Linked DNA regions of Homo sapiens. The protein of the gene in region 2 purifies or fractionates together with the protein of the main gene of each other region. This does not show direct contact. Each region holds a gene or a part of one and is shown on either strand. Other genes may lie near its edges.

The links.
Region 1: the proteins of CLN3 (region 2) and RCN2 purify together in Homo sapiens (affinity purification with mass spectrometry, with the first as the bait; one large-scale study listed by BioGRID). This does not show direct contact.
Region 3: the proteins of CLN3 (region 2) and HSD17B12 purify together in Homo sapiens (affinity purification with mass spectrometry; 2 studies listed by BioGRID and IntAct, with this or other methods). This does not show direct contact.
Region 4: the proteins of CLN3 (region 2) and GCN1 purify together in Homo sapiens (affinity purification with mass spectrometry; 2 studies listed by BioGRID and IntAct, with this or other methods). This does not show direct contact.
Region 5: the proteins of CLN3 (region 2) and COX15 purify together in Homo sapiens (affinity purification with mass spectrometry; 2 studies listed by BioGRID and IntAct, with this or other methods). This does not show direct contact.
Region 6: the proteins of CLN3 (region 2) and ARMC6 purify together in Homo sapiens (affinity purification with mass spectrometry; 2 studies listed by BioGRID and IntAct, with this or other methods). This does not show direct contact.
Region 7: the proteins of CLN3 (region 2) and TMPO purify together in Homo sapiens (affinity purification with mass spectrometry, with the first as the bait; one large-scale study listed by BioGRID). This does not show direct contact.

The regions. Positions count from the first base shown.
Region 1 is NC_000015.10:76,938,249-76,941,748, reverse strand, and holds part of RCN2 (reticulocalbin-2 isoform a precursor), read right to left. Parts: intron 113-3,500; coding exon of another isoform or gene 59-112; intron 1-58.
Region 2 is NC_000016.10:28,482,075-28,485,574, forward strand, and holds part of CLN3 (battenin), read right to left. Parts: intron 2,045-3,500; coding exon 1,932-2,044; intron 599-1,931; coding exon 552-598; intron 472-551; coding exon 403-471; intron 309-402; coding exon 253-308; intron 125-252; coding exon 31-124; intron 1-30.
Region 3 is NC_000011.10:43,851,738-43,854,426, reverse strand, and holds part of HSD17B12 (very-long-chain 3-oxoacyl-CoA reductase), read right to left. Parts: intron 1-2,689. UniProt on the Homo sapiens protein: Catalyzes the second of the four reactions of the long-chain fatty acids elongation cycle. This endoplasmic reticulum-bound enzymatic process, allows the addition of two carbons to the chain of long- and very long-chain fatty acids/VLCFAs per cycle.
Region 4 is NC_000012.12:120,132,216-120,135,715, reverse strand, and holds part of GCN1 (stalled ribosome sensor GCN1), read left to right. Parts: intron 1-989; coding exon 990-1,183; intron 1,184-1,310; coding exon 1,311-1,425; intron 1,426-3,500. UniProt on the Homo sapiens protein: Ribosome collision sensor that plays a key role in the RNF14-RNF25 translation quality control pathway, a pathway that takes place when a ribosome has stalled during translation, and which promotes ubiquitination and degradation of translation factors on stalled ribosomes.
Region 5 is NC_000010.11:99,725,628-99,729,127, forward strand, and holds part of COX15 (heme A synthase COX15), read right to left. Parts: intron 1,937-3,500; coding exon 1,814-1,936; intron 1,528-1,813; coding exon 1,341-1,527; intron 1-1,340. UniProt on the Homo sapiens protein: Catalyzes the second reaction in the biosynthesis of heme A, a prosthetic group of mitochondrial cytochrome c oxidase (CcO). Heme A is synthesized from heme B by two sequential enzymatic reactions catalyzed by heme O synthase (HOS) and heme A synthase (HAS).
Region 6 is NC_000019.10:19,050,603-19,054,102, reverse strand, and holds part of ARMC6 (armadillo repeat-containing protein 6), read right to left. Parts: intron 2,482-3,500; coding exon 1,908-2,481; intron 1-1,907.
Region 7 is NC_000012.12:98,539,590-98,543,089, reverse strand, and holds part of TMPO (thymopoietin), read right to left. Parts: intron 1-3,500. UniProt on the Homo sapiens protein: May help direct the assembly of the nuclear lamina and thereby help maintain the structural organization of the nuclear envelope. Possible receptor for attachment of lamin filaments to the inner nuclear membrane.

The DNA.
Region 1 (3,500 bases), on a different chromosome or scaffold from region 2:
GCTTTTTCTGGTTCACATTTCACGGCCATTTGAAGAACACAAAATAAGAATAGCTCACATTAAATCGAAGAAGCCAAAAACAGAAAGACTGTTTTTTACAAATGGCAAATTCCTAAAAAAATAACAAAAAAGATGGTCAGTTTCATAAAACTTCAACACTCTTTTTTTTTCTTGTATATAAAAACTTTGTATTCTAGTAGAGGGTAAAAAGTGTTAGGTACAGTAATAAAAAAGCTACCATAATCATTTATTTTTAGATTACAACAGAAACTTGTGAGGAACAAAACTGCCATCTTTTGGTAGACTAATGATTCTACATGAGGAAATATATAATGTGTGATACTAGAACAAATGACTAGGCATTAAAAATTCTGATTAGCCACATGCAAGGTTATATCTTACATAAATAAATACTGCTTATACATGCACATTCAGCAGTCACGCCTGTAATCCCAGCACTTTGGGAGGCCGAGGTGGGCAGATCACCTGAGGTCAGGAGTTCGTGACCAGCCTGGCCAACATGGTGAAACCCCATCTCTACTAAAAAATTAGCTGGGCATAGTGGCACACGCCTGTAGTCCCAGCTACTTGGGAGGCTGAGGCAGGACGATTGCTTGAACCTGGGAGGAAGAGGTTGCAGTGAGCCAAGATTGCCCCACTGCACTCCAGCGTGGGTGACAGAGCAAGACTCCGTCTCAAAACAAAAACAAAAACAAAAACAAAGAACACTTGAACTTTTGCCAGATAGATCCCCAAACTTTAATTATCCTGTGTTGACCATAACTGTTCTTTATATTATAAAGAAATGCTTCTTCAGGCATTTCACAGCCTGAAAGGGTTATCTTTATTCCCTATATGAAAACTTATTAAATATAAGATAAAATTCAGACTGGGCATGGTGGTTCACGCATGTAATCTCAGCACTTTGGGAGGCCAAGGCAGGTGGATCACTTGAGGTCAGGAGTTTGAGACCAGCCTGACCAACGTGGTGAAACTCAGTCTCTACTAAAAAAAACAAAAACAAAAACAAAAATCAGCCAGGTATGGTGGCACGTGCCTATAGTCCCAGCTACTCAGGAGGCTGAGGCAGGAGAATTGCTTGAATCTGGGAGGCTAAGACTGCAGTGAGCCGAGATTGCACCACTGCACTCCAGCCTGGGTGACAGAGCGACACTCCCTCTCAAAAAAAAAAAAAAAAAAAAGGTGAAGTTCAGATATTAAGCTGACTTTCGTCAGTTATAACAGACTTTCTTATAGAAAACTTTATTTTATTCACATATCCAATTACTTTTTATGATTATTTTATTTATGGTATAGTGTTTAGTCTATAACTTTGAGATTGATTCATTCCTCATCCGTTATTTTTTATTTAGAAAAATAATGCATATGGTTTCTGGGTTCATCTTTACACTCCACATCAATTTTTAGGACGTTATTTTTTTTTTTTAAAGGGACAAGGTTTCACTATGTTGTCCAGACTGGCCTCAAATTCCTGGGCTCAAGCAATCCTCCTACTTCAGCCTCCTGAGCAGCTGGGACTACACATACACACAGGAAGTTACTTATAGCAAATTCTAAAAACATATGATTAGAACTTCATGAAGATAGAGACATATTCCTAGGCTGTCAAAAAAAAAAATAACCAAAAGGACTCCCATTGAAGTGTTCATTTTCGGGATCAATCTATTCCTTTAGGCTGTTAAGATTCATCTAATTCATCCTTTAAAAGCAGAGTGTTATAATCAACACATTCTAAGTAGCTGGTGGAGAACACAGAATTAGAACCAGACACCTTTTAAAAGAACTGTTCATAAACAATTTATGAGTCATGTATCTCTTCAAAGTGAAGATTTTCTTCTCAGCACCATCTATTACATCACCCCCTTCTAAGAATACAGGAACATGCACTTCTTATTTTTTAATGGGATAGTAATTAAGTCTTTTGAGTAACAAAAAATAAAAATAGAAAACATAATTAGAATCTAATTCCAGCAAGATTTTAAAATACTGTATTTAACTTCTCTGTTGTTCCTAGGAAGGGAAACCACACCACACCATGCTTTGGTTTTAGATAAGTTACATTGGTTTAAGATAAGTTAATTCCTATAGTAAATGGGGATACTTAATAGACAGATGATCCCAAATCTCATTATCACTACTTGTTTTTCCTTTAGTATTTACAAGCAGTAAAAAGACTGATTTTTACTCACTTTAGTCCACTGTAGAATGAAGACCCAAATAAAAAGAAAACAAAAGATACATTTTCCCCTTAAAAAATAAAATCCTAACTAATCTAAAGCTGATAGTTAACAAATGCATAAAGTTTTAAAAAGTTGATTAAATATAAATTTATGTGAACTGTAAATGCTTTCTTCAATATTCTTTTAAATCAAAACAGAACTGCTTGCCCCTCCAACTGCTACCATTTATTAATATTTATCCACACTATTATAATCCTAAAGAGGAAATTTTTATTTATTTATTTATTTATTTATTTATTTATTTATTTATTTATTTTTAGAAATGAGGTCTCTCTGTTGCCCAGGCTGCAGTGTAGTGGCATAAATATGGCTCACCGCAGCCTTGACTGCCTGGGCTCGAGCAATCTTCCTGCCTCAGCCTCCCAAATAGCTGGGATCACAGGACGGACCATCATGCCCATCTAATTTTTAAATTTTGTTTGGGCATTTGTTAACTAGACAGCTTTAGATTAGTTAGGATTTAATTTTTAAGAGGAAAATGTATCCATAGGGACGGGGTCTTGCCACATTGCCCAGTTGTTCTCGAACTCTGGGCTCAAGTGATTCTCCCACCTTGGCTTCCCAAAGTGCTGAGATTACAGGTGTGAGCCACCACACCTGGCCTGAATGGGAATTATTATCCTCATTTTTGGAGATGAGGAAACTGAGGCACATGAAAGTTTAATAACTTGCCCAAAGTTACACAACCGTGAAGTGCTGGAGCTAAATGTGAAGCTAAGCAGACTGGCTCTGAGGATGGAGCCCCAAACCTCCACATTGATGCTGTAGTTATTAGCAGAGAATTAACCAACTTAGAGTTAGTGGTGGCTTACAGAGTTCAAGCGGCCAATATGATTCTAAATAAATAGCACACTTAGAAAGCATTTACCAAGGAGGGAATGGGGTGTTGTTTAACAGGTACAGAGTTTCAGCTTTCCAAGATGAAAAGAGTTCTGGGGATTAGCTGCACAACACTGTGAATGTACTTAACACTACTGAATGGTACACTTTAAAATGGTTACAATAGTAAATTTGTTATGCACTCCTCCCTCCATATTTGTGAGAAATTGGTTCCAGAACCTCCCACAGATACCAAAACCCAAGGATACTCAATTCCCTGATATAAAGTGGCATAGCATTTGCATATAACCTACACATATCTTCCCAAATATTTTAAATCATTTCTAGATTACTTATAAGACAAATTACAATTTAAATGAGGAGTAAATCATTGTTACACTATATTGTTTAATACAATAA
Region 2 (3,500 bases):
GGAGTGAAGTGAGGGGCAGGGGTTTGGTACCTGCAGCAGGGCCAGGGCCCAGGTGAAACGGATGCGACAGCAGCGGAGAGAAGAGCGGGAGGCAAAGACGCCAGCCTGGTACAGCATCTGGTACCTGAGGTTAGGGTTGGGGGGAGGAGAGGAGGCTCCTCCAGGGACCATCCCGCTCCCCCCGGTGCCTACTGGGCAGGGCAGCTGCATCACCACGGCGCCCTCCCAGCCCACTGCCCTCGCTCCTCTTACCAGCGGTATTGCTGAGCGTGACTCAGGGAAGTGTTCCAGAAAAAGAGGAGTTCAAACTGCAACAAATACCAGACAGGGGAGATGGACGGGGCTGTGTGGGTCCCAGCCCCAATCGCCACCTCCACACCCCTCCTAGCACCCCTCACTTACAAGTCCCTGGTTAATGAAATACTCGGCAAAGTAAACTACGACCAAGGGAACAATGTACCACAGCAGACCCTGGAAAAGGCAGAAGATATAAGCGGGGGGCCTGGAGGTGAGCAAGCCCCACAGGGACATACCCCAGCCATCATCCGAACCTTGAACACTGTCCACCTTTCCCGAAGGGAGAGGCTGGAGCTGGAGCCTGCAGGGGAACAGAGAGAGAAGGGCAGATGAAGTTTTCACACTGAAGACTCGGCAAAGAGGCACCGGTATGACAGAATTAACCAGACCACGCAACAGTGGGAACTCACTTCCATGCCACTGGATTGGACACTTAAAAATGGTTAAAATGGCTGGGCGCAGTGGCTCATGCTTGTAATCCCAGCACCTTGGGAGACTGAGGTGGGCGGATCACCTGAGGTCAGGAGTTCAAGACCACCCTGGCCAACATGGAGAAACCCCATCTCTACTAAAAATACAAAAATTAGCCATGTGTGGTGGCAGGTGTCTGTAGTCCCAGCTACTCGGGTGGCTGAGGCAGGAGAATCACTTGAACCCAGGAGGCAGAGGTTGTAGTGAGCTGAGATTGCGCCATTGCACTCCAGCCTGGGCAACAAGAGCGAAACTCCACCTCAAAAAAATAAAGTAAGATAAAAAATAATAAAATGGTAAACTTCAAGTAATATACATACTTTATCATGATGAAAATAAAAGCTAACCAGGTGAGACCTCTTCACGTCTCTTTGATTTTTAATTTTTTTTATTTTTTGAGACAGAGTCTCACTCAGTTGCCCAGGCTGCAGTGCAGTGGTGCAATCTCAGCTCACTGCAGCCTCTGCCTCCTGGGTTCAAGTGATTCTCGTGCCTCAGCTTCCCAAGTAGCTGGGACTACAGGCATGCACCACCACACCTGGCTAATTTTTTTATTTTTAGTAGAGACGGGGTTTTACCATGTTGGCCAGACTGGTCTCAAACTCTTGATCTCAAATGATCCATCTGCCTCAGCCTCCCAAAGTGCTGGGATTACAGGTATGAACCACCACGCCCGGCCAATGTCTCTTGTACAGCTCCACAGATGGCCATTGGCCCACCCTGCCCAGTCTCACTGGCCATTCTCTGGTTCTAGAACATCCCAGCTTATCCCCACCGCAGGGCCTCAGCACTTGTGATTGGAATGCCTGGCACATGGTAAGTACTCAATTAATATCCCTTCTTCTCTCCCTCCCTTCCTTCCTTTCTTTTCTTTTTTTTTTTTTTTTTTTTTTTTTTGCGACAAGGTCTTGCTCTGTTGCCCAGGCTGGACTCAGACTTCTGAGCTCAAGTGGTCCTCCTGCCTCAGCCTCCCAAAGTGCTGGGATATTACAGGCGTGAGCCACTGTGCTCGTCCTCAACAAGTATTTCTCAAATAGACAAAGGCTTTTCCCATAACCAGTACACTCACTCTCTTTCCCCTCTTAACTTTGCCTATTGCAGAGAGGAAAAGGCCAAACCCAGAGAGAAAGAAAGTGACCTCTCTGAGGGTCTGTGTCTCCTACCTGGCTTCGACTCCGGGGCCTCGGTTCTTATGAGGGGCTGCCGGGCTGCGCTCTCTGCTTCTTCTTCCCCTCCAGGGTCCTGGGCCTCAGGAGATGTGAGCAACAAGAAATAGCTAGGAGTAGGATGAAGGCAGGGTCAGAAAACCCTACTGGCTGGGAAGGTCCCCAGGGACCATCTAGGCCACTTTTCCCAGGGAACACCTCTACCTTTGAACACTTTCAAAGATGGGTAGCTCACTGCCTCTAAGGCTCCTACGCTGTGCGGGAGAGCTCCAATTGTGGACAAAGGCTTCTTTCTTTGGACCTGAATTTATCTCCTTATTCCTATTCATGGGCCTTCATTTTGTTTTGATTTTTTTCAGAGACAGGGTCTTTCTCCAGCATCCAGGCTGGAATGCAGTGGTGCAATCATAGCTCACTGCAGCCGCGACCTCCCAGGCTCAAGCAATCCTCCCGCCTCAGCCTCCCAAGTAGCGGGGACTACAGGCACGTGCCACCAAGCCCGCCTCATATTTTCCATTTTTTGTATAAATGGAGTCTCGCTATGTTGCCCAGGCTGGTCTCAAATTTCTAGCCTCTAGTGGTCCTCCAGCCTCAGCCTCCTAAAGCACTGGGATTACAGCTGTGAGCCACTGTGCTCAGCAGGCCCTTGTTCGGACTGCTGGCTCATACCTAGCGAGTCAGTTCTGTTTTCTGGCCATTATTATTCTAATGGTCGCTCTAGCTCCCATTAATTATACGTTCACTCTGTGCTAGGCCAGAACTTCCTCGATTTTAGTCACTTAGGTTCTGGCTTCATGTTATTTGCCATATCCATATTCCTCCTGTATATATATATTTTTACTTAATATTTTTCTTTAAATGGACTCACTTTTTCTACTTAGACTTGTCCTAAGCACTAATCTTGTGAAGGGCCAGGTGTGTCTGGCTAGTTCAAAGTGTGTGTTTTTTTTTTTTTTAGACGGAGTCTCGCTCTGTTGCCCAGCCTGGAGTGCAGTGGCACAATCACGGCTCACTGCAACCTCTGCCTCCTGGGTTCAAGCGATTCTTCTCCTCAGCCTCCCAAGTAGCTGGGACTACAGGCAAGCGCCACCAAGCCTGGCTAATTTTTGTATTTTTAGTAGAGACGGGGTTTCACCATATTGGCCAGGCTGGTCTCAAACTCCTGACCTCGTGGTGCGCCCGCCTCGGCCTCCCAAAGTGCTGGGATTACAGATGTGAGCCACCATGCCCGGCCAAAGTGTTTTGTAATATGCATGAAAATACACAGAACTAATCAGGCCGGGCGCGGTGGCTCACGCCTGTATTCCTAGCATTATGGGAGGCCAAGGCAGGTGGATCACTTGAGGTCAGGAGTTTGAGACCAGCCTGGCCAATACAGTGAAACCCCGTCTCTACTAAAAATATAAAAAATTAGCCAGGCATGGTGGCATGGGCCTGTAGTCCCAGCTACTCGGGAGGCTGAGGCAGGAGAATCACTAGAGCCCGGGAGGCCGAGGCTGCAGTGAGCTGAGATCACACCAGTCACTGCACTCCAGCCTGAGTGACACCATGAGACTCCGTCTCAAA
Region 3 (2,689 bases), on a different chromosome or scaffold from region 2:
AATCCAGAGAGCACAGATTCAGGATAGGATACTTTTCACACTTAGTAAACTCAACATTGAGACAGAACCACCAAGTAGGAGATCTTTGATACTTTATTCTTCTAATGGGATAATGCCAACTTTCTCCATAATTTATGGCTAATTAAGCTTGTTCTATCAGCTTTGATCCTTCTAAAATAGACATCTTATTTCTCAGACTTGCGTTACTACTTTTCTTCCCTAGTTTCTCACCATTCTACTTCTGAGTTTTATAAACAATTTTATTGATAAGATAGAACCACCTCCCTTTTTTTCTTTTTTAGAAGAAACACAGTCTAACAATATGGAAACTGTTTGGGTAACTAAAAGACACCTGACTGGATGGGTGTAGGGTGACAAATCTGGACATGACCTTTAGAGGAACTTCAATAATGTTAGGTTCTTTATTGCTTAAGCTTGCTGCATTTTGGATGTGATTCAACACAGAGTATAAGGAAACCCTATTGTAACAAGTCCTGAGTCATGATACAAGAGGTCCTTCTGTAGTTTGAAATAACCTGGGCATGGTAGTTCAACAAAGAGTGAATGTATTGTTTATCTCACATGTGTGAAGTATCACTGCAATGATACTTCTTTTTTTCTTTTTCTTCTTTTTTTTTTGAGGCAGGGTTTTGCTTGTTGCTTAGGCTGGAGTGCGGTGGCACGATCATAGCTCACTGCAGCCTTGAGCTCTTGGGCTCAAGGGATCCTCCTGTCTCAGCCTTCTGAGTAGTTGGAACCACAGGTGTGCACCACCATGCCCAGCTAATTTAAAATTTTTTTTGTAGAGACAAGGTTTCAACATGCTGCCCAGGCTGGTCTCAAACTTCTGGGCTCATGTGATCCTCCCACTTCAGCCTCCCCAAGTGTCGGGATGACAGGTGTGAGCTACCACGCTTGGCCCAATGACACTTCCATTAAAGAAAAGGAATGGTTCTAACACATGGTGGTCAAAATCTTAAAATTTCAATCAAATTGAGATCTGTTCCATTCTATGGATTTCCGTCCTGCTGAGACCTAGAAGGAGTGGTCCCATGTCTCTGGTTTTTTTTTTTTTTTTTTTTTTTTTTTGAGACAGAGTCTCAGCGAGAGTCCCCAAGCTGGAGTGCAGTGGCGCGATCTCTGCTCACCACAAGTTCCGCCTCCTGGGTTCACACCATTCTCCTGCCTCAGCCTCCCCAGTAGCTGGGACTACAGGCGCCCGCCACCACGCCTGGCTAATTTTTTGTATTTTTAGTAGAGACAGGGTTTCACCATGTTAGCCAGGATGGTCTCGATCTCCTGACCTTGTGATGCACCCACCTCGGCCTCCAAAGTGCTGGGATTACAGGCGTGAGCCACCGCGCCCGGCCGTCTCTGGGTTTTTATGTACGTGTGTGCTTTGCATTTTTCCCACTCCGAAGTCTAAGTCAAGGAATGCAACCCACTCTCCTTGACAGGTTAGATGAAACCTCAGCCTCTTCATTAGAACCAAGAACCCCAGATGGAGTGCTGTCACTCTCTATCTTCCTCTTTCCTTGTTGCTGCAGCCACAGACTCATACTAAGTATGAAGTACTTCAATATTTGAGCCAACTTTGATTAGGTAACTTTTGATTTCTGAGAATTTGTTTATTGGGATTATCACTATATATTTATCCCTCACTTAGAAAAAAAAATTTTTTGTCACATCTTTTAAGGACCATTTTGCCACAAGGATATAGTCTATGAGAGCACACACTAGGGTGAGATCTCCGACTCAGACTGAGTAGGAAATGCAGAGTTCAGTGAGGCTCTCACAATGGGTCAGTAAAGAAAAGGTTATTTCCCAGAGTAAAGTTGAGCAGTAAGGAAAGAAAGAGTATATGTAAATACTCTGATCTCACATAATGAAGGAACATAAGCAAACCATTTCTCATTTCTATGCATTAGGTTTAAAGGTCACAAAATAGTGAAGATTAAAAAAAAAAACCCAAATATAGATCACAAGCCTGGTAAAGGTATTGTAAGATTTTGAGCTTCTAGAGGTAGAGATGGTCTAATCATTATACCTCTCAACTGCGTTATAATTTTTTGTTCCTTTCGTCCATCCTTTTTGCCATCTTCTTCCCTCCCTTCGTATGTAACATGGTATAAATTGGACTACTTTGATCTTGTAGGAGAATTAAGTTGCACTGCCTGACTGAACCACTTGGTGGTGCCACAAGTTAACTCTTCATGCAGCTAAACCATAGAGCTAGTCTAGAGAACCCCCAGATCAAGGGGTGGGGACAAGAGATGCATACTCAGGAATTCCAAGTTGGGTTATGTTTTTCCAGCTAAGAAATGTAAATTCTTTTCTAGAAAGTATATTTATTTCCACGATGGTTTAAAATCAAGGCAGTTAACATGGCCTAGTGGAGGGTTCAAAGACGAAACAGCGTTTGAGCTAAGTCTTAAATGAAGTGCAAGAATTTCCCTAATTGTAAACAAATAAGGGAACAGCAGGAGCCAAGAAAAGGAGCCACAGAAGAGCATGATGTTTTTCAGGGAACTGCATAGCTCAGGATGGTTCAAATGTTGGAAATGTGTGAAGAGTGGCAGGAGGGAGGCAAAACGGTACAGAAAACTGAATCCAATCACTGGGCAGTATCCATTTCTAGAACACAAGCTCCATGAAGGCTTGGTCATATTCATATATTTTAATGTTTTAG
Region 4 (3,500 bases), on a different chromosome or scaffold from region 2:
TTGGCACTGAACCTCCAAACAGTCACTCTGGTTTTCCTAATTAACAATAAGTAAGCCGGGCGTGGTGGCTCAAGCCTGTAATCCCAGCACTTTGGGAGGCCGAGGTGGGCAGATTACCTGAGGTCGGGAGTTCGAGACCAGCCTGACCAACATGGAGAAACCCTGTCTCTACTGAAAATACAAAATTAGCCGGGCATTGTGGCGGGTGCCTGTAATCCCAGCTACTCAGGAGGCTGAGGCAGGAGAATTGCTTAAACCCGGGAGGCGGAGGTTGCAGTGAGCTGAGATCGCGCCTTGCACTCCAGCCTGGGCAACAAGAGCGAAACTCCGTCTCAAAAAAAAAACAAAACAAAAAACAGTAAGTAAATCTTTACTCTTGGACCCACCTGTATTGTATCAAAAGTGTGCCTGTGTTTCTGTATAGTCAGGGGTTGAACTGGATTTTTAGTTAGGTGGGTACACATTTGTGCAGGGAGGATTCTCCAAGGTCATTTGTTTCACAGGCTTGTTCTGAGGGCTGAATGTGGAGTGCGTATCCTGCTGTCAGTTGCTCAGTAGATGGGCTCTGCAATTATACACTGAGTCCCTTTCCCTGTCTTGGCATTAGAACTGTGCTTCAGTACTGCCGATAGTCTGCCCTGCTTGTTAATGTATTCAGAGGAGGATTTGAGTCACTTATCGATATGGACAGGTCTCCACTAAGCCAAACCCCAACGCAGCCAAGGCTGCGAGACAGCTCCCTCAGATAGCGGCCGCCGCCTCCTCGGCCTCCTGCTCCTCCAGTGTATCAAAGCATGCTGGATATGACCAGGAGGCCAAGCGAAACCTGTCTGTGTTTGGCCTCTCTGACGGGCTATCTGTCCCCAGCCCTGTATGAGAGCTGGACTCGCTGTGGTGGTTTGGGATTGTCATTTGTTCTCATGCCTGTGGTACACTGTGGCTTTGGGTCTACCACAACTGTCTTTCATGGATGTGGGTTCCTCCCACAGGTTGGGATTGCCCTGAAGCCCTTCCTGCCCCAGCTGCAGACCACTTTCACCAAAGCCCTGCAGGACTCCAACCGGGGGGTGCGCCTGAAGGCCGCAGATGCTCTGGGGAAGCTCATTTCCATCCACATTAAGGTGGACCCCCTCTTCACAGAGCTGCTCAATGGCATCCGCGCCATGGAGGACCCAGGTGTCAGGTACGGCGCTGGCAAGGGAGCACTGTGGCCTCCAGGAGGCCAGGGGTTGCTGTGGGCCGAGCCTGCGCTGGCAGGAGGGGTGGTGGTGGAGGCACCCAGGGCTTAAGGCGGTGCATTGCTTCTGCAGGGACACCATGCTGCAGGCCCTGAGGTTTGTGATTCAGGGAGCAGGGGCCAAAGTGGATGCCGTCATCCGGAAAAACATCGTCTCACTCCTGCTGAGCATGCTGGGACACGATGAGGTACGGCTGCAGGCAGGACTAGTGGCAGCACTGGACCACTGGTTTCCCTCCTCCTCCTTAGGTTGAGTTCTTCACTTTGTGTTAGAACCAGTACAGCTCAGTAGTAATAAGCATTCCTGACATTTCTATCACCCTGTATGCTTCACCAACATTTCCTCGGGTTTCAAGGGAAACGGGGCAGGTATTGTGGATATATTGGTTATTTCCGTTTGTTTGTTTGTTTTTTGGCTGAGTCTTGCTGTGTCACCCAGGCCGGAGTGAAGTGGCACAATCTCGGCTCACTGCAGCCTCCGCCTCCTATCAAGCGATTCTCCTGCCTCGGTCTCCCGAGTAGCTGGGATTACAGGTGTCCGCCACCATACCCAGCTAATACTTGTACTTTTAGTAGAGATAGGGTTTCACCATGTTGGTCAGTCTGGTCTCAAACTCCTGACCTCAGGTGATCCACCCGCCTCGGGCTCCGAAAGTGCTGGGATTAACAGGCATGAGCCACCGCGCCCGGCCGGTTATTTCTATTTTATAGATGAGGCAAGTAAGCTTTGTAGAGACCCAGACCTCTCACCTATTTGCTCTCTGATCTTAAAGAAGTCACTTTCTCTGTCTGCCTCTCATTTCCACTTTTGTAAAATGAAGAGGTTTATTTATTGTTTTGTGAAACATTTGCCGAGCTAAAGGGCCTATCCCAGAGGTGCATAGACCTCGTGGTCACAGACCTCAAGAAACTTAGTGTGTAGTGGGATAAATGGTCTCCAGGGTGTGTCCCGGTGGCAAGTCTTAGAGGTCTATTTTCGAGGGTGAGACTTGTCTGGGCCATACCCAGCAAGTAGTAGAGTCCAAACCAGAAGCCCTGGACTCCTGGTTCTGTCCCAGTTCCATCAGCCTCACCTAGTCTGGAAGCATCTGTCAAATATTTGGCTGCGAGCACTGTGGGGCCAGTAGGGAGTTGAGTCTATGGAGAAGAGTTTTCTGTTCCCTTTTCAGACAGCCCTCTGTTGTGGTCTAATTTACTTTGTAGGGCCAATCTAGGAGGAGAGGGCCTTTGGGCTCACATGGTTTTACACGTCATTGACACACACACACACCCACACACACTCCTCCTGCCCACACCTGCAACACACACACTTGCTGCTGCACTTCCCATGGCTCCAAAGGCCTAGTTCTGGTCCCCAGGCGCCAGCTGTCGGACTCCAGCCCCAGCCTTCTCTGTGGGGACAGACAGGAAAGTCTGCTGTCTTGGTCACAGTCTTTCAGGGCTTCTACAGAGTCATGTGTACAGTGCAAGCAAAAGTTAGTATTGAAACATATTTGCATTTTACCACAGTGCAGCTTAAAATAGATGAAGTTGGAGAGAGTCGGTGTCAGAGCCAGCTTTAGCTTGGCACCTGGGCTTCTGCTTCGAGCTCAGAGGCCCAAACTGCTGGCAGTCCATTCTCTTACCCTCTGAACCTCCACTCAGATTGAAGGTGGCAGTTCAGGGTGCCAGCCTGGCATTAGCTTTTTGGGTTATTGAGTCCCTGGTTGGTGGTTTGTTTTGGGGACATGTTGAGTTGGCACCTGTAATAAGGAACATAACTTAAAATCCTCTCTTGGTATTCCATAGTTAGCTGGCCAGGGAGGAGCACGGAGCCGCTCGCGTACCTGGCTCTGATTTGAACAGGAAGTGCTTGCCTTTCCTTATCTTCCTTGGCTTGATTAGTGGCTTTAGTTTGACTTCCTAGGATGAACCCAAGTAATTTCGGTGGCAGTGGGGCACTCATGCAGTAGGGAGATAGCAGGAGTCATTCTGGCCACAAGATGACACAAACTCTGTGGGAGAAAGGAGCTCAGAGTGGCCGTCTCTAGCCGGCTTCCCTGGTGGCTGGGGGCAGGTGCCTCCCCTCCTGCCCCTCCCGCCCCTCCCTGCCTCACAGGGCTGTTGATAGTAATTGAGATAATAAATATGAAACATTCAGCCTTCCTAAGAAGAAAGATGCTATGTAAATACAGTTATTACTGCTATTACAAGGATGATTACCATATGCATACACACTGGGGTTTTCTATAATTAAGTGAAGTGCTGGCTGTGTAATGTTTAA
Region 5 (3,500 bases), on a different chromosome or scaffold from region 2:
CAGCTCGCTGCAACCTCCGCCTCCCCGGTTCAATCAATTCTTCTGCCTCAGCCTCCGAAATAGCTGGGACTACAGGCCCACGCCAGCATGCCCAGCTAATTTTGGTATTTTAGGTAGAGACAGGGTTTTACCATGTTGGCCAGGCTGGTCTGGAACTCCTGATCCCCCACCTTGGCTTCCGAAAGTGTTGGGATTACAGGTGTGAGCCACTGCACCCGGCCTTAATCCCTTCTAACTGACTCATTTTCTTACCACTTCTGAGTTAAATTAACCAATTAGCTTCCTCCTGATTAAATTTTGATGTTTCTTTGATGCCCTGATAATCTCCTTTAGGATCTCTAAACCTTGACCCAAATACTCCTATGTGTCTTCTCTTTTAATTTGTTGCTCAGTTTCACCCAACTTTTTTTTTTTCATCATTCTAGCAGTACTAACCTGTTAACTGTGGGAGTCTTTCCTTAAGAGGCGCTCAACTTACGTGATTTTAATTGCCATTTATATCTGAATATCTCTCAGCTACATGGGTATTCTACAATCCTTCATCCCACAAAGTGTTTCTCTCTTTTGGAATTTTCCTGTATGCTTCTGTGGCATTCTAGCACAGGGATCCCTCTTTCCTATAGCAGACAAGTTAGAAAAAGAGGAGAGACAAGAACCTAGGGAGACACCCATGATGGGAAACAAACTACATCTTGCAGCACATGAAAATATACTACTGAGTGCTTTACTGATTCCAGGCACTAAGCTAAGTACTTTAAATATGGATTATCTCATTTAATATTTACACGACTGTACATGGTGGCACTGTTATTATCCCCATTTACAGGTAAAGAAATCATAGCTTTCAGAGGTTAGGTAATTTACCCTAAGTGTCAGAGCTGGGGCTTGAAGCTAGGCCTGTGACACTAAAATGCATGCTCTTACCTATTCTATTAAAGTGCCTCAGAGATTATTTCCTTAAAAAGAATGCCAACTAGGGGCCGGGCGCAGTGGCTCACACCTGTAATCCCAGCACTTTGGGAGGCCAAGGCAGGCAGATCACGAGGTCAGGAGATCGAGACCATCCTGGCTAACATGGTGAAACCCCGTCTCTACTAAAAATACAAAAAATTAGCCAGGCATAGTGGCAGGTGCCTGCAGTCCCAGCTACCGAGAGGCTGAGGCAGGAGAATGGTATGAACCTGGGAGGCGGAGCTTGCAGTGAGCCGAGATCACGCGCCACTGCACTCCAGCCTGGGCGACACAGCGAGACTCCGTCTCAAAAAAAAAAAAAAAAAAACAATGCCAACTAGGAAGCTCCTGGGAGCATTTCTGGTTTCTCAACCTTGAATAAATCTTACCTGGAAGCAGACGAGGCCACAGAGGGCAAGAACACGTCCTTTCATGCCACGGCTGAGCCAGCCCTTTCTCCAAAAGTAGGCAGCAGGCAGGATGTACACAAGGCCTACAAGGCGACCCCACATTCGGTGTGAGTACTCCATGTACCAGATGAACTTGAATTCTGTCAGTGTCATATCATGATTCAAGCTGGGTGAAATGGAAAGTCAAAAAAGGAGGAGGAGGAAACATCCTTCTGATTTTTATTTTCTTACGGAATGCAAAACCTTTCTTTCTCAGTCCTGCAACTTGGTAGGTCTGCCCTCTTCCTCATCAACGACCTCAGGATGACTTTGGATTTGGGGGCTTAGAAGACAAGCTGACTAAACATAACTGAACCGAAGTTCATGAAATAATCTAACCATTCTGAAGGGTTTAAGTCCAAAAGATCAAATGGGCCTACTGGGATGTTTACCTAATTTTCTCTAATACTTACATTTTAAATTCTGGAAATTGCTGGTATCTTTGGAATTCTGCTTCCCATTCCTCTTGGCTTGTAGGTGGCTTCATCTCCTTTATTAAATGCCAATCTACCATCGAGAGGCCAGACTCTGTCAACCTTAGGATAGGAAAGAAATTTTGGGGTGTATGCGTGAGGCTGGATTACTCACAAAAGGTTTATAGCAACAAGTGGATCTGAACTTAACCTTGTTAAAGGTAAACACATTGTTTCCTTGTTTCCTCTTTTGAGACATTTCTCTGTTACTGCTTGGAATTTTGTCAGAAACAGCTGCCATCAGGTACAAATTTATTTACCCTTATATTCTCTCAATCCTTTTATTCAACTCTCCCCAATTCTTTTTTTTTTCCCAATTCTTCCTTTCACTAGCATTCCTCAACAGGTAAAATCAACCCCTACAGCCAAAGAAATGTGTTCTAAATGCATAACCAACATTCCTTACCCAGGGAAAAGAGACCTGTTACATGTATACAGGTTTAGATTCTTGGGTGAATTTAAAGACAATAAAATTCAAATTTGTTTCACTTGCTCATAACAACCTATATAACACATAAGGTATTTTGAAATAAGGGACGTGGAATGTGAAGAGAATTTGAGGAAGACACATTTGATTAAAACTAGAAACTTTTTTACCAAAAGGAATTAGGATTCCTAGAGTAAAAGCCTGATTTTAGGCCTGAGGCAAGAAATGCACAAGATGAGCTCGGAACATCTTGTCATACTAGAAAGTAAGGAAACTATCAAAGGTAATTAGGGCCCTGCCAAAAAGTCACTAGAGCCAATTTCAGGAGATGCCCACTGACTAAAGATGGGACAATCTGAGCAAATCACTAACACCATCATCACAACGGACCGAAACATTATCGAGTGTGTTTGAACCTATGATCTCATAATGAGCCTTAAAAATTCAAATCCTTTATTTGTTGCCTTTGGAGGATTTGGGGGACCAATTTATTATTTTGAAAATTGGTAAATAAAGGGAAAGAAGAATCAAGTATGTATCCTGCCTTTCCTATACAAACTATACCTTGGGATATCCAAACTGATGATGAGGGAAAGCTTTTTAGAGTTGAGCTAATAAAATATTATAATTTTGCTACGCTAATGAAATAATGGATCTAGGCAATGGTAATTAATGGCTGTTAACATCTATAATAGACACCAGATATTCACGAATGTTCTATTCACCTACTGAAGTATTTTGCTCCCTCATCCCTAATTTGAATCTGATCAACCAACTACTCATTCACAGGAAATAGACGGGACAAAGGAACATGTTAAATATCACACAGTTATGCAGTCAGCAAAATCTAAACTGTGCATAACCATAGGACAAATGACTAGAGTTTCCTCAGCAACTAGAAGAGGGGGAAAGGGAGGAGTGTCTAAATCTATAGTCTCTTGATAGATTTAAACAAACCTAAGAAACATGAACCAATTGTGATGTACAGAACTTCTTTGGGTTTAATTCAAACAAACTGTAAAAAAAGTTTTGAGACAAACTTGGACTCTGATTGAAAGAGAAAAGATACATAAACAATGCACAGGTACCAGTTAAGACATAAACCAGTCTTTATAGAAGGCTCCTACTAATAAAACACTCAACTGTTCTATGGCAGGGCAAGCCATCAGACATGTTCCTTCTTTAAGGCCTCGGTTTCTC
Region 6 (3,500 bases), on a different chromosome or scaffold from region 2:
GGGCCCTCTGTTTTGGTGGAGATCCTGCTCCACTGGAAGAGTCCAGCCCTTCTGCCTATTGGAGTGGCCACGGGCACCAGGAAGGCCCCAGGGAACACCAGGGGCTACCTGGGCCTGCAGTGCCCCCTGCTGGCTGCTGGGAAGACTTAAGAATGTGCCCCCCAACCCGCTTCCTTCCATCATGCCCCAAATAAATTCCATACCAACTCATGGTCTCACCTAAAAAAAGAAAACTATAATAGTGCAAAAAAAAAAAAAGACATCTGAAGACTATTTTTATGATCATGGGGTAGGAATGGCTTCTCTAAGTGCAACAGGAAACTCCAGAACCATAGAGGGACACATACGGACTGGGCTGACGTGGCCAAAACTGAACACAGGAGCCGCAGATGGAGCCCAGAGGCGCTGCACCAGGAAGCAGGTGCCGGCACTCACGCCAAGAGGGCGAAGATCCTGCACCTACACAGGGCTGCGACGGTCAGTTCCTGTGACCACCTGTAGCCCTCTGCAGTTCCACCCAATGCCAATCTAGGTGTTGCCGTGGAGGTATTCTGTCCACATGGTTACCATCCACAATCAGCTATCTATTATTATTATTATTATTATTAATTTTTTTGAGACAGAGTCTCGCTTTGTCACCAAGGCTGGAGTGCAGTGGCGTGATCTTGGCTCACCACAATTTCTCCTTCCTAGGCTCAAGAGATCCTTGTGCCTCAGCCTCTCAAGTAACTGGGATTACAGGTGCCCACCACCACGCCCAGCAATTTTTGTATTTTTAGTAGAAACAGGGTTTCATCATGTTGCCCAGGCTGGTCTTGAACTCCTGGGCCCAAACAATCCTTCTACCTCAGCCTCCCAAAGTGCTGACATTACAGGCATGAGCCACCATGCCCAGCCCAGTTGCCTTTAAGTAGAGGAGATGACCTTGAACAATGTGAATGGGACTCATTCCATCAGCTGAAGTCCTTAGAAGGAAACTGAGGTGTTTCCCCGAAAAGGGGACTGCCTGGGGGTTTCCAGCCTGCCCTATGGAGTACAGACTTGCCATAATTGCATGATCCCATTCCTTACCAAAAAGTCTCTTCATATATACATATCCTGTCTCTGGCAGAAACCTAACTGATTGGAGCTCCTATAAATAAAACAGGAAAGATGTGAGCTACCTCCTGGAAAAGCAGCCTGACTTTGCAGAAGGTCGGGACTCATTTTCAGCCTTGCTGGAGGTGTGGAAGGGAGACTGAGGTGGGCCCATCTCCTCAGCAGACAGAGCCAGAACCCCCACACAGGCCTGGCCACAGAACCAGAGTGACGGGGCAGGCAAGAAAGGGGAACTCATCCTCCTAACACCTTCTGTGTGTCAATCAGGACTTTTCTGGTGGGTTCAGTGGATGGGATGGGGGTAGGGGTTAAGACAGAAGCTTTAGGGTCTGACGGTCAGCACTGTGACCTCCCAGGGCTGGCTCACCATGGTCACCCTGGAGCCAGACACATGAATATGCCTAAGGATTTGTGGCTGAATATGATCAAGCGTGTACACATCCAGCTGAGACTGCCATGGTGCATGCCAGCCAGCCCCCCCGAGTCCTCTTATTTCCCTCTGGGGAGGTCCCCCTTCCCCACTCTCAGCCCCTGGAGTTGGACACAGCAAGCCCCTTCCCCAGACAGCTCCAGAGATGGGATTGTGGCCTGCTCCTGGCCCCTGAGTGCTGGCCTGGAATTCTCCTGGAGCCACTAGAAAACATGGGGAGACTCTTCACGAGGGCTGCCATGCAGGCAGGTCTAAGCCGAGGGGCGAGTGGAGCCTTGAGCCTGCCGTGCCTAAAGCAGTCCTGAGCCCTGACCCTCACTCTGGTCACATCTGACCCGCCCACTTTGTTCGCTGGCTCGTGTCGGCCCCCAGCTCTTACCTTTGGTGGCTTCGATGAGCACCTTCAAGCCTTTGTTCTCCTGCACAATCATCTTGGCATGGTTGTGGGCATGGCCAAAGGGCACACGGATGTCGTCATCGAAGGTCATGACACGCAGGGCCCAGCAGGCTTCCCTGACCACGTCAGTGTGGTGGCCATGATGGGTGATGGCACCAGTCAGCAGAGGCAGCACGCCAGCTTTCACCAGGTCTTGCCGATTCTGTTCATGTTTCAGGCAAGCGTGACGCACACAGCGGATCCCAGAGCAGGTCAGGTCAGCCTCATCAGCATTCTGGGTCAGCGTGGCCACTAGGAGCTGCAGGCCCTGGGCATCCAGGAGGTCTGGCTGTCCATCAGTCAGCACCGACAGGGCATTGAGGGACTGGAGCAGAAGGCCCTGGTCACCTGCAGTGGCCAGCTTCCAGGCAGTGAAGATGATGGGGTAGGCCCCCTTCTGGGCCGCGAGGAAGCGGCAGGCCTTGTCCTGTTTGCACTGGTCGCAGAAGCGGGTGAGGTATGCTGACACCTCCTGGGGGCGAGAGCTGGCCACAGACTCCTGGAGGTCACTGAGCATCTGGGAGACATGGGAGAAACCTCAGCATCAGCTCAGGCAAGAGGAACCCATGGCCACAGCAACAGTGTCTGGACCCCTGCAAGGTTCCCTCCCCTGGGATCTGGGCCTGCAGTGGAAGTGATGTGGGGCAAGTTACAGCTCTGGCAACTTCCAGACCTGTGATTCTAGGAGCTTTGAGCTTCAGAGGCCATAGCGTGGAAGACTGACACACACACACACACACACACACACACACACACACACACAGAGAGAGAGAGAGAGATCCAGACAACTCAGTGTCCCTGCCGAAGGGCTGCACACATAAATGCAGACATATTAAACATTCCAGCCCTACCTGCCATCAAGAGGCCCCAAGCGATACCAGCAGAAGAACCATCCAGTTGAGCCCAACCAGGCAGAATCACAAGAAACAATAAGATGCCTGTTGTTTGGGTTGTTTGTCACACAGCTGTAACAAACTGGCACACCTGTCAATGGTCAGCTCTCCAAGGAAGGAGAAAGCCACATTCACCAGACATACCCATCCTGATGTCTCCTTTCATCTCTCTCATTCACTCCACAAACATTTATTGAGCACCTGCCAAATGTGGTTACACTGTACAGAGAGCAGATTTATCCAAATTCAACTCTAAGCCACTGGGGAGAAAATACTTTAAACAACTCAGATAAGTTTAGCTGCCATTCAACTACATGACCTCGGGACATGTCTTAGCATGAGCCAAAGATGAATCTGTGAGCCTGAAGTGTAGGAGATTATTTGCCCTCAGACTGAATCAGGGTGGTTCTACAGAAACCACCAGCCCAAAGGGCTTTGATTTGGCATTGACTGACACGAAAAACAAAGAAGCCTATGGGATAATCCTCACTGAGCTCAGATTTGTGGACCTAAGTATATGTTACAATGCAACAGGATATTTAAAAAGGTAAGTTTTTGCTAAAATGAGATTAGAACTGAAAAACAAAAAACAACAAAAATTAAGTTAACACCAGTGTGCATGACTAGAATAGACATTACTACA
Region 7 (3,500 bases), on a different chromosome or scaffold from region 2:
AAAACCCCACAAGTTACAGACATAGTCTCATAAATCATGGTTTTGTATTTATCTATATTTGGAATTGATATTATAAGAGTTTTAAGTCACAATCTGAATCTCTGGGTTCCTCATCCTATCAATTAGGAAGTATTTGCTGAATGCAAAATTATTGTCAAAAGAGAAACTTGTAAACAAATTACAGACATACACAGAGTAACTGCTTTTTAATTTTTATTTTATTTATTTTTTTGAGACAGAATCTCGCTCTGTTGCCCAGGCTGGAGTACAGTGGTGCAATCTCCACTCACCGCAACCTCCACCTGCGAGGTTCAAGTGATTCTCCTGCCTCACCCTCCTGAGTAGCTGGGATTACAGGCACGCACCAGCACACTTGGCTGATTTTTTTGTATTTTCAGTAGAGACAGGGTTTTGCCATGTTGGCCAGGCTGGTCTCCTGACCTCAGGTGATCCACCCACCTGGGCCTCCCAAAGTGCGGGGATTACAGGTGTGAGCCACTGCACCTGGCCAGAGTAAGTGGTTTTTAATAGTCAAATTACCAACTATTTGAATAGACGGAAAGGTAGTTTTATAATCTGAGATTCTCAATCCTTGTGGCACAGTACCATCAAGGAGAGCTTTAAAAAAAAAAAAAAAAGCAAATGCCCCCAACTACCATAACCAATTAAATCAGAATCTCTCCAGGTCTGGGAATAGATAATTTCTAAAGCTCCTGAGATAACTAAAAGCCATCTTGAAGGCCTATCAATTTAAGTAAAACATGACCAATATGGTTACTCGTACTAACTTTATTAAAAAACAAAACAAAACAAAAAAGCCTCATATTCCTCCATTTGAGAACAGTACTTTCAAACACTGCTGGTGGGAATGCAAAATGCTTCAACTCATATGCAGAGAAATGTAATGGTGAAATTACCTAGCAATTTTACTGGTACGCTTCCCCAAGATAAACTGGCAAAAAATATGCAGTGACACATGCAAAATGCTGCTCCATGGTTCATCCTGGCATTATTCATAGCAACATACAGCTGAAAACAACTCAAATATTCACCAAATGGAGAGTGGTTAAATAAATTACAGTACATCCATAAAATGCAACACATAAAATGCAGTTGTACAAAGCAATGAGGAAGATGGCTACGTTCCGATATGGAGTGATCTCTAGGTTTAGGTTAAAAATGGAAATGTACAAAGCAGGCTGCATTTTATGTAAAAGGGGAGCATATAAAAATCTATATATTTACTTATATTTTTAAAAAGAAACAAAATATAAATCAAAACAATAAAAATGCTTATCTGTAGATGGAAGGGAAAAGGACAGAAGCCAAAATTCTGACTCTACCTTATTTTGCCTACATAAAACTACATTATACTCTCAACACAATTAAAAAATAATAAAAGAAAAAGCAATCCTAGCATTAGAGAACAAAAAAACCTAACTATTAAGTTGGTGGCTGTATGACACAAAAAAATTCTTTCAAGTGACTTTAAGCACAGTGTTTTGACATTACATTCTAGTGGGATATGTCCTAAAGACAAGGAAAACAAAAGCCCAAATTGCATTTAACAGTCTTATTGTTAGTAGTAATACTGTATTATTTAGAAACACATATATGTTGTGATACTTACATAAGTAACAACATCATTTGAAGAACCAAGATATTCAGCATAAGATAAAAATGATACAAGTATAACATAACCCAAAATTAGCCTGTATTTATAAATTTGAAATATCACCATTAATTCATGATTTACCTAGCACTACCTACTGAAAAGACCCAGAAACAATGACAACCAGTAGGAATGAACATGTCAGCATCCAAATTGTTGCTTCCAAATAGTATTATCTATTAAAAGGATCACGGTTCCTTAGAAACATGGCTGATTCCAGGCATGACGCAGGAAGTATACATGAGCCTGGGACGTCTTACTATTCCAGAAAACAAGAAACTATCAAAGATAAATGGGGGAAGGAATTAAAAAATACAGGAACCAACTTAGTAATTCCTAATGGCTACAGATGGCACAATGTGAACATCAAAAAAGAATGATGACTGTAACTGATCATAAATTCAATACATAAAAAAAACCTCAAAATAATAGACCTAGGCAATAATCATATGACAATGGCTGTTAGAACCATTAAATGAAAGGACAATGTGGATCTTTATAACAGATGGATTAATCTTTCAAAATCTAAATCAATTACTAATTTTAGCATCGCCAGAAAGACATTCTATACCTCCTAAAACGATGTAACAGGAAGGCCGCTATATCATTTAAGTATTCTTGTGAAAGAAACTGGACATGGATCTGACCAACCCTCTGGATCTGTGCCGTCCAATATGGTAGGCCACTAGCCACATATGGTCATTGAAATTTAATTTAAATTAAAATTAAAACATAGTTTCCGCCAGGCGCAGTGGCTCACGCCTGTAATCCCAGCATTTTGGGAGGCTGAGGCGGGTGGATCACCTGAGGTCGGGAGTTCGAGACCTGCCTGACCAACACGGAGAAACCCCGTCTCTACTAAAAATACAAAATTAGCCGGGCGTGGTGGCACATGCCTGTAATCCCAGCTACTCAGGAGGCTGAGGCAGGAGAATCGCTTGAACTTGGGAGGCAGAGGTTGTGGGGAGCTGAGATCACACCAACCTTGGCAAAAAGAATGAAACTCCATCTCAAAAAACAAACAAACAAAAACAAAAACAACAACAACAACAAAGCAAAACAGAGTTTCTCAGCCTCACTAGTCACCATCGAAGTATTCAATAGCTAGTGGCTACTGTAACGGATAGCACAGGTATGAAAAATTTCTATCACAGAAAGGTCTACTGCATAGCCTCACTACAGATCTAACCCACTCTACAGAAAATGCAGCGTATAGAGAAGCTAATTAAATGACATAAAGAAGCAACCTAACAAATCCAGAATGTTGGGAAATTCTGTAATGACCTGGTTTCTTCACCAAATAAATGGAGGGAAGAGAAAAAGTTACAGTGGTAACAGCTACAGACTTGAGAGAGTAAAACAACCAAAAATCAAACCGGATATGTGGATCCTGTCTGGATCCTGATTTGAACAACATAATCATAAACGAAACATTTCTGAAACTAGAGAAATTTAAACATGAATTAGATACAAATAAATTATTAATTTTATTAGGTGTGATATTGGCATTGTCACTGGAATAGCACTTATCTTTCAGAGATATATGCTAAAATGCTGACTTTTTAATGTGTGAAACACTATGTCAAAGACTGCTTTAATATACTCCAGGAAAAAGCAAAATAAAAAAAATCAAAAGCAATTTATTGCCAGGTGCGGTAGCTCATGCCTGTAATCCCAGCAATCTGGGAGGCCAAGGCGGGTGGATCACCTGAGGTCAGGAGTTCGAGACCAGCTTGGCCAACATGGTGAAACCTGGTCTCTACTAAGAATTCAAAAACTAGCTGGGCATGGTGGCGGGAACCTGTAATCCCAGCTACTCAGGAGGCTG